3 linked regions of the Homo sapiens genome follow. The protein of the gene in region 2 purifies or fractionates together with the protein of the main gene of each other region. This does not show direct contact. Each region holds a gene or a part of one and is shown on either strand. Other genes may lie near its edges. The genes, in order: DCK, RIOK2 and BEND3.

What was found.
Region 1: the proteins of RIOK2 (region 2) and DCK purify together in Homo sapiens (affinity purification with mass spectrometry, with the first as the bait; one large-scale study listed by BioGRID). This does not show direct contact.
Region 3: the proteins of RIOK2 (region 2) and BEND3 purify together in Homo sapiens (affinity purification with mass spectrometry; one large-scale study listed by BioGRID and IntAct). This does not show direct contact.

What each region holds. Positions count from the first base shown.
Region 1 is NC_000004.12:71,024,584-71,028,124, reverse strand, and holds part of DCK (deoxycytidine kinase), read right to left. Parts: intron 2,310-3,541; coding exon 2,194-2,309; intron 1,461-2,193; coding exon 1,370-1,460; intron 1-1,369. UniProt on the Homo sapiens protein: Phosphorylates the deoxyribonucleosides deoxycytidine, deoxyguanosine and deoxyadenosine. Has broad substrate specificity, and does not display selectivity based on the chirality of the substrate.
Region 2 is NC_000005.10:97,160,209-97,163,307, reverse strand, and holds the end of RIOK2 (serine/threonine-protein kinase RIO2), read left to right. Parts: intron 1-82; coding exon 83-247; 3' UTR 248-2,441; downstream 2,442-3,099. UniProt on the Homo sapiens protein: Serine/threonine-protein kinase involved in the final steps of cytoplasmic maturation of the 40S ribosomal subunit. Involved in export of the 40S pre-ribosome particles (pre-40S) from the nucleus to the cytoplasm.
Region 3 is NC_000006.12:107,105,508-107,109,165, forward strand, and holds part of BEND3 (BEN domain-containing protein 3), read right to left. Parts: intron 656-3,658; exon of another isoform or gene 570-655; intron 1-569. UniProt on the Homo sapiens protein: Transcriptional repressor which associates with the NoRC (nucleolar remodeling complex) complex and plays a key role in repressing rDNA transcription.

The sequences.
Region 1 (3,541 bases), on a different chromosome or scaffold from region 2:
CACATACTTTGCAATGTCAGTGTGTGCAGAAAATCATGTAAGGAGTCAATGAACCTAGCCTACTGACCATAATGTAAGAATATGCTTGTTCTCTACATATTCTAGGCTACTCAATAATTCTCAAGAAACAAAAATTATTGCCTTGTAAAAATACCTTAATAAGAAAGTCAACTGCTAGCATTATTAATAAAAGTAAATATAATAATGTGAAATGATTCTTAGTCAAAACAAAGAAGTGTTAGATAAAATTAAAAAGTGATTTACAAAGTCAGTTAAATTGATGGTTGGCTGTTAATACTTAATGCTGACTTTTCATTTAATAGTATTGTAAGTGAATTTATCCTATATTTTTAACATCATTAGTAGTATGAAGAGGTCATTGGAATTTTCCAGATAAGCTTTAGTTCATACCATGGGAAAAACAACTACATGTATACGCTACAGTAGTTACATAAAATGTCAAGATTTTCAAAATCCTTGATATATCCCTTATGAATGTCAAGTCTCTATTAAACAGCAGACATTATGCCACAAAAGAAAGGAAAAATCAAATTTTTCTCAAAACTAAACCAAATTGTGCTTTCTTCTTTATAGCTTAATCACTCAGTTATCAACATGGGTATAGGGATATTTGTTATACCAATTCCCTTACTATTCTCTCTCAAATATTCATCAATAAATTCTCACCCATTCCCTTTATCAATATGGGCACCACTCACTTAACAGAATATAGTCAACTCCCAGTGATTTGGGCAATAAATGAACTGTGATTAAGACAATGACTCAATGATTAAGTAATGTCAATTAATCCTTGACATGATCCCAAATGAAACTCAAAACTAAAATCCCTTAATCTCAAGACTTTGGCCAACATAAAAATAGATGAGATCCATATCCTGTAACTTTAAATATCCTCCATATTGAATTTAGTTGAAAAAGATAAATTTAATTTCACAAGCAGTTTATTATTAAAGTATCTAAAGATTGGTGGTGTAGGGAAGAGAGGAAGAAATGGGGACAAAGCAGAGAAAAAGGGGGTGAGAAAGAATTTTTGTTATTATAATTTTACCTATCCTACAGATAGAGGCACTAAAGGATAAAAAAAAATCCTTATTTTATTTTTATTTATTTAATTTTTTTCTAAGATCTGTCAGATTCTGAGATTCCGAAGGATCTTTATTTTAGCTCAGGCCACAAAGCTAGAATTTAGTCAGGACTGGAATCTTAAACAGTCCAAAATCTTCTAAAGCTCTTAACTGTTTCTTAATGTAACTTTATGGAAGCTTTTCTGTTAGAAAATTGTTTTCTCACCACTCAGTACACTTTTTTAGAAAAAACAAATATTTGTTTGTAGTCTGTCTAAATCTACCTTTTCAACCAGACTTTCATATTTGTCTTTAAAGTCTTCATTAACATCCAGTGTTAAGATAGGCACCTCTTGAAGATAATCGAAGTTGGTTCTGTTTAAAAAGAGAGATTAATAAAATAATCAGAAATTCAACAAAAAAAAGAGAGAAACATTAAAAATTCATTCGTATGTCCTTGGAAAATCAAAATGTTGTCAATCATTTACACTAAAGTTACTTTGCAGTACTTCATCTGGCAGCCCCTTCTTTCTCATCTAGATTTACCATATGGAGCCCAAAAACTTAGGTACAAAATATATACAGCTGGGTACTGTAACATATGATTCTCTTCAAAAACAAATAGCAGTCAATAAAGTAGGAATTTCTGCATTTTTAAAGATGAGAAAACTAAAGCTCAGAATTGTCATTCTGAAGCTCAGAGGCTATCCAAGGTCACACACCAGTAAGACTGGACTTGAGCCAAGATCTGACTAATAACAAAGTCTATCCTCTCAACAACCACGCTATACAATCTCCCAAGTCAAAATTCTTTCTGAAAGAGTACCTAAATAATGTTCAGATATATTCCTACTTTATCACTTAAAGTGAAATTTCACATATTACGCTATCAATACCACCAAGGGATACTAGTTATAAAAACTTTAAGTAAATAGGATCTCATTGCAATCAAGAGAATGAAAATCTATACCTAGTTCTGGAAGATACCAATAAGCAAAACGACTGGAAATTTTACATATTGCTAGTCATATCTTCCAAATTTTAGATTAAAATTTAACAAAGGTAACAAAGGTATTTAAAATGAATAGTAAATAAAAATAAGTCTTACTTCAGTGTCCTATGCAGGAGCCAGCTTTCATGTTTATAATGAAGCTTCTCTAAATATTCAAGAGGAATGCCTTGCTCTTCATTTCTTCCCCGTAAATATATTCTATGTAAGCATGTCTAAAAGCAAGTAATAAGAGATGGAAGAAAAAGGCAGGGAACAATTATTCTTGTCTGCTGCCATCAAAATTTTCTTTTCTGTGTCTCTCTACTCACGCTAGCCAAAATCTCTACTTATTACTTCTTAAAAGCTGAAATAATTCATTTTTCCCTCCATGAGCTTTTCAGCCACTTGGTGGCTCTAAGCCAAGCAGTACTTTCAAAAATAAGCCTATAAATTTTTGGTATCCATCCACACATGAAATATACTAAGTTTGATAAAAAGGAGAAAAAAATTAAACATCTACTTAAAATGTTCAGAGACAACAGCTAAAAGGTATGCCAATCTATAAACATAATCTTACTTTGCTGTTAACCAACCTTGATTACAAAATATCTATGTTCAGTTCACATAAAACCACTAAAGACAGTGGTTCTTAATGTGATGAAAACTCTATATCAGCACAACCAAAACAACTTTGGAATGTTTTATGCCTGTCCTATATCTGCATTATCAAATAAGGTAGCCACCAGCCACCTGTGGTTTTTAAGCACTTGAAATATGGCTAGTGTGGTGACCAAGGAACTAAATATCTAAATTTTATTTAATTTTAATAACCCTAAATTTAAATAGCCACATTGGACAGTGCAGCTCTAGATAACGGTCCCCCAAAAGCACACATACATAAAAAATTTCGTATAATTTGTGGGGGCTCATATACCATGAGAAACTCTTCATGCATTCCAAGAAATAAAAGCCTCCAACCTAAATGACATGCATAAGACCATGGCAGCATACAAACTGTGTTTCAAACTCTACTCTAAATTCTCTTTTCAATAATTAAACAATCCTTTCATCCAAAGATATCAGAAACAATACTGATGAAATTATCAGTATCAAAATGAAATTATTAGTATTATTTATGTTTTTGGTGTTTGTACTATTTTCATAACTTTAAGAAACCTTTTCAAAAATAAAAGTGAATTTCAAAATTATTATATTTGCTAAATTCTAGCTTAATAGTGACTATAAATGTTTCAAGCAAAATGAAATTATTCATATTCCTTATGTTCTTTTTCACATTTTTATTTACTATTTTTGTAATTAAAAACAAAAAAATTCAAAAATAAAAGTGAATTTCAAAATTCACTTTTGAAATTGCTAAAAAATTGCTAAATCCTTGCTTAATGAAGAACAAAATCTTTACTTAATGAAGAACAAAATCATCCGTTGGAATAGGAAACCTAATTTC
Region 2 (3,099 bases):
ATATATAAATAGAACAGATATTAGCAGTGTACTTTTTGAAATGGTTCATTATCAGTAATACTAATTTATGAAATCTTTCCAGGAACTGGTGAAACAGAAGGTGAAACGTCAGTTGACAAAACAGCAAAAATCAGCTGTCAGACGTCGATTGCAGAAAGGAGAAGCAAATATATTTACCAAGCAACGTAGGGAAAACATGCAAAATATCAAATCAAGTTTGGAAGCAGCCAGCTTTTGGGGAGAATAATATATTTAGGATCTTGGATATGTTTAATATATTTTTTAAAGTTACTGTAATTCCTTTTTGAGCCCTCATTTGTCTTTTTTGAGCCAAGGCTATCATATATTAATAAATAAACCCTCTTTCATCTATAAATTTGGTCATTCAGTATGTGTCTTGCAAAGAATAATTACCTGCCAAAGCAGTCCATTTTTTTCAAAGTAATTTGGGTAACTACAGTTACGTAACTTTATTAGAGACATTTGCATATTTTTAAAAATCTAAATAACATTTTTGTTGTTTTCTGTTTGTTGAGGATGATATGCTACAATGCACATAAAGCAATTAGAACAATGTTTAGCACATTCTTAAGCATTCAATAAAACATGGCTATTAGAATCATAATGATTCTGAAATTCTGCTGACAATTTGGTTGCATTTTATTTGGCAACTGGAGGACTTCACTGTCTTATTTTTCTTTAGAAGTAAAGATAAGCCTTTGGAAGTAAAGATAAGCCAGTGATGCACAATTTGCTTAATTAATTGATTAATAATCTGTTTTGTGCCACTTACATTGGTAATGTGGTCATGAGAATGGAAACTTACTTGAGATAGTCTACCACAATTTTTACAGTTGGCAGCTTGTAAGCAGGCCTGAGTAGCAGAAGAGTTAGGGGTTGGGGAAGGTGGAGTAGAATGAGGAATGAAATGTTCTTTCTCATATGCTTATTATATAAGTGGGTCCGGAACATGTTCTCACCTCAAGGTTAACAAATACCTAATGCAGGAAAGAAAATACATAGCCATGGTCCCTTCCTCAAGGACTTTATAATTCAGTGAGATGTAAAGATGAGTGCTTAAGTGTATGCACCTGATTATTGTCTCTTCATTGCCGCATAAGTCGGAAAAGGGGATCACTTGCAGCGAAAAATGGCCACTAGATGGCAATATCACCCCATAGTCACCAAACAGGATTACTTGCATCCCTAATTATGTTCTACCAGAGGGAATATAGTACAGACTTTTCCAAGATTGATAAAGACAGCAGATTCCCTTTCACCTTTGCCAAATTAACTCTACTAGCTATTTGCAAGACCTGTAATTATCTAATAAATTGGCTTAAATATATAGAAGCTAGAAAATGCCAATTCCTCTTCCCTCAAAAGTTACCTGACATTCAAATATTTAAATACCCTTGCTTTGCATTTTAGATATATCTTTGAATTCAGGTATTCATTTTGTATAATCTCTCAACTTTTAAGCATTTTTATAATGTAAAGTTGAAAACAGCTTAATAGAACCACAGAATGTTTATTTTGGAGTCATTTTCTTATATTCAGAGCTATGAAAGCAAATTGGGAATAAAGCCTTATCCTGCTCAGCTTTACCTAGTTGACTCAGTTGACTTTTGAGTATCTACTACATAAAAAGCCCATTACTATTAAGAAACTCAAGACAAACATGATTTTTACCTTTAATAGCCTAAGATTTCTTGTGGGCCAAGGAATTAATTATTCCAATCAGAAATGGAGGCCTTACCTCATTTGGGCAAAGATTAGTGCTAGTTATTGAAGATTTACTAATAAATGATCTGTTAAGGAATTTAGTTTTTTTTGGATATGTTGTTTTGGTTGTTGAAAACTAAGGTATAATTATAATAGTTATTTTTTGAAGATATGTTTGGCTAGCCATCAATTAGAAGTTAGAGAGTTTGTCCTAACAGATAAGCTATAACCCTCACATTTTAAAACATGCATAGTGAACAATGAACAAAAACAAATTCAAAATTTTACTAATGTAAAGCTGTATATTGTGATTGTTAAAACACTTTTTTTTGCCTAGGAGTTCCAGATTTAAATCCTGGTTCTACACTTCCCAAACCTCAGGTACCTTCTGTGGCCTCTCTAACCTCAATTTTTTTACTTGTAAAATGGGGACATTTAATAGTATACCTCAGTGTCGTGAAGACTAAATGAAGTACCACTTGTAAAGAGTTTATTACAGTGCCTGACATATACTGTATGGTTAGTACTGCTAAAATGACTTCTTAAGGTTACCAAAAGGAAAATTCCACAAGCTGACCACCTTTCCTATTGTGATGGTCACTGGTATTTCAGCTATGATCCTTTGTTGTGTATTTATCCAGACTGAAAGATGTTTTTCTAGTAACCATCTTGCATCGTCTTAGTCTCCCCATTAAATAAACTTTTCCTACAAACTATGCGGTTTATATTTGTGCTAACTTTGTGGTATTGATAGCCATTGGTCTGTTCTTTGGCACATAGCTGGCTATCTTTGAGGTTTCTCCAAAACCATAGATGTTTAATGGATACTAATCAGAGTTAGTGCAGCTCGAGATAATCATTCTTTTAGCCAACTGCTTAGTAAATTTTCTGACAAAATACATAGCTGTCTAATTAAAAAACTCTGCCTGATGCTGCCTTCCAGGTTGCTACTTACAAAGGATAGAGGGATGAGTTATGTTAGGTTCTCAGAGCACTTTCTGAAGTGTAGGTTTATTTCACTGTCACAGATTCAGCACTCTGGGTGGGCTACAGTTCGCCATGCCCAGTCTTCTTTATCCCTCCTTAGAACATCTCCCTAGAGAGCATCAGGCCATATCTTAATTCGCCCTTGCTTTAGTTTATGAAGTACTGGAGCCATCTTATGCACCTGTGTAAGGAGGCTGGAGATTAAAGTTCAGAAAAGCCATGGGTTACACAGTTGTGTAATAACCAGGAGTATGGGGATAACTCCAAAGCTACAATACTTTTATAGAGAACTGTGTCATTCACAAAACCTATGTTGTTAGATTTTAAAGACTGCAAGTTTTTCTTTTACCTTAATATTGTAAATAATGACATTAAAAATATTAACAT
Region 3 (3,658 bases), on a different chromosome or scaffold from region 2:
ATAGGCGGCTGGGAGTGGCCCGGGGTACCTTTCTATCAAGTTCTTTGAATAGTCAGTTGCTGTGGAGAGAGCAGACAGACCAGGTCTTTTGGGACAGCAGCGTGAGCCTAATCAGAGCTGCCAGAGGCCTGTGGGCCGGGGAGTCACACAGGACAAGCGGCAGGCCCAGAAATGGGAAGTACTTGGGCTTCCTGCAACCTGGAGGTTCAAATTCCAGCCAGCTGACTCCGGATTTTACCCTGCTAGATCAGAGATGTCCTCGCCACTGTGCTGAGGTGCCAGTCCAGGAAGACCTGGCCCCAGCAGCCCTGACCTCATGCCACTCAGGGGCAAATCCCCCTTACCCCTAAGAGCTGTTTCCAGATGCAAACTGAAGCAAACTCTCACTACCAGAAGATTCCCTTGAGAATGTGGGCCCCAGAACAGGAATGTGATTGGAACCTGAAACAATAGGGATGGTGGCTGTGTGGCCCCTGCCACACACAAAAGGTAAAGTGGAGAGAATATGCTCAGTCATTAACAAAACAAACTCAAGGATTTTAAAAATTTAACCAAGACCTAAACCTTACTTCAATCTTTTCACAATTGCCATATGTCTGATTTGATTTCAAGGAACTTCTCTGCTACAGGTGACATTGACTTCTAAAAATTAAACCTAGAAGAGGGGGACAGTAGTTAGTATTCATGTGGCACAGGCTTCATGTTCTAAGTGTTACATATGTCAACCCACACAGTCCCCACCAGCACTGCTTCTTGTGCAGATAGGGAACGGGGCGGGGGTGGGGTGATTTGTGCTGCCCAAGGGATGCAGCTGAGACCAGGGAGTAGGAAGGACTTCAGGAGACTCCCGGCATGAGAGCTTCATTCCAGCCTTCCAAGGAAGCTGGGACTGAGGAATGGGCCATGACCTCCCAGCTTTCTTTCCCTCTTCCTGCTAAGCTGTGAGCTGGGTGCAGGTGCATGAGCAAGTCAACAAGCCAGATGGGCCAGTCTGTGACCAAGGCAGGAATTAGTGCAGGTGACCCTCCAAAAAATGGAATTCTTTACTAAACTTTGGAGTCAGATGGAACTGCATGAAACCCTGGCTTTTAATCCAGTTTTTTCATTTTTTTTTTCCCCAGAGATGGGGGTCTTGCTCTGTTACCCAGGCAGAGTGCAGCAGTATGATCAGAGCTCACTGTAGCCTTGAACTCCTGGGCTCAGATGATTCTCCCATCTCAGCCTGTGAGTAGCTAGGACTATAGGTGCACGCCACCACACCCAGCTAATTTTTTATTTTTTGTAGAGACAGGGTCTCCAGGTGTTGCCCAAAATGGTCTCAAACTCCGGGCTTCCAGCAACCCTCCGGCCTCAGCCTCCCAAAGTGCTGGGATTTCAGATGCAAGCCACCACACCTGACCCTTAACCCAGCCCAGTTTTCAAAGAGGGCTTTTTTTTTTTTTTTTTTGAGACGGAGTCTCGCTCTGTCGCCCAGACTGGAGTGCAGTGGCACAATTTCGGCTCACTGCAACCTCTGCCTCCCGGGTTCAAGTGATACTCCTGCCCCAGCCTCCCAAGTATCTGGGATTACAGGCATGCACCACCACATCCGGCTAATTTTTGTATTTTTAGTAGAGACAGAGTTTCACCATGTTGGCCCAGCTGGTCTGGAACTCCTGACCTCAGCTGATCCACCCGCCTCGGCCTCCCAAAGTGCTGAGATTACAGGTATGAGCCACTGCACCCAGCCCAAAAAGGTTTTTAACCGAGTTAAAATATTTAGCATCTAACACCAGGCCAGCTGTTTACCTACCCATCCAAGCTGTATTCTGTAATAGGAGCTGGACACATCTACCTCACCTCAAAAAGTTTTTGTGAAAACTACAAAGGAGAAAGTGTCTGACACATAGCACTCAAAGTTACCTATTATAAAGCTTCTTTTTTTTTTTTTAAGGAAAAGATGTTTAAAGTGCATTTTATTTTTTTATTTTTTTGAGACAAAGTCTCATTCTGTCGCCCAGGCTGGAGTGCAGTGGCACAATCTTGGCTCACTGCAACCTTTGCCTCCTGGGTTCAAGCGATTCTCCTGCCTCAGCCTCCCAAGCAGCTGGGATTACAGGTGGGCACCACCATGCCTGATTAATTTCTGTATTTTCAGTAGAGACGGGGTTTTACCATGTTGGCCAGGATGGCCTTGAACTCCTGGCTTCAAAGTTCCACCTGCCTTGGCCTCCCAAAGTTCTGGGATTACAGGTGTGAGCCATCCCGCCCAGCCTAAAGTACATTTTAATAGTGAATTTTTAAGAACTGCAAATTAAATAAAATGGCTTAAAAGATTAAAAAGGTTTAGTAACTTTTCTTTCCAATGAAACATAGAAACTGGAGGGAGGGGGATGAAACCAAATAAAATGCTCTCCCTGAGGACAGGAGGAATGTTCCCATGCCATCCACTCTGGTGCCGCGGGTCTCTGGGTTCACAGGACCGGCTGGGAGCCTCAAGGGTCTCAGGACCCAGCCCCCTTGGCAGTGGCATCCTGCCCAAGGGACTTGCAGGACATGTTCGCAATTTGTTTTTATTTTTAGGCACATCTGCAAATGCAGTTTGAAAAATACCAGTCCTCACAAAACCAGGGCAATTTTCCCCAGAGTTTTTCTAAAGCTGTAATTGTAGCTGCCTTCCTTATTCAGTCAGAGCACAACCTCATCTTCCGCATGCAGCCAAGCACAGCCGCACAACCCTGCCCGCGCGCCTGTGATTTGGCGTCTTAATCTTTGGTCACTTGCGTCTTCTGAGTCTTGAGTAAATGTGCCATCTTCCTCAGCTAAGAAGTTCCACTTACGTTCTCCCCAACCTCGTGGAGGGCTACCTCCTCACATGGCTCACAGGAGACTCTGCGTATTAACCTTGGCATGCAGAAGCTGAGGCTCAAGGTGGAAGGAGGGACCGCACATTCCAGCATCCAGCCATGTGACTGACTGCACAACGGTGACTAATTTTCCTAGGAGGTATAAGCTGAGTTTCCGCTGCACTTCCCATTTTATCAAGTGTTTTATTTTGTGACCACACAAGCTGATTAGGGTTCGGGGCAGTTGGGTGTATACTGCACCCCCAATCCTAAGCAAGCCTCAGTCCTTCGCTCTGCTAGCTCCATGCTCAAACCAAAACAGCCCCTGACATACAAGAAAAGGCCAGTAAATGACTTATTCAATTGAGCAATCAATGCCCTGATACTGATGCAACTGTGTTTCACTAGTCAGAAATAACTGAAAATCAGACAAGAGGAGAGGTGGCCACAGGTAGAAAAAAAATTAAGAGGGTTGATTGATTGATTGATTTGAGATGGAGTCTCGCTCTGTTGCCCAGGATGGAGTGCAGTGGTGCGACCTCGGCTCTCTGCAACTCTGCATCCCGCGTTCAAGCAATTCTCCTGTCTCAGCCTCCCGAGTAGCTGGGACAACAGTCATGTGCCACCACACCTGGCTAATTTTTGTATTTTTCACTAGAGATGGGGTTTGGCCATGTTGGCCAGGCTGGTCTCGAACTCCTGGCCTCAAGAGATCCACCCGCCTCAGCCTCCTAAGGTGCTGGGATTACAGGTATGAGCCACCACATCCAGCCAAGAGGGCTGACTTTAAATACACGTTTCAACTTGGATTAAAAATTGGTGGGGGCGGGGGG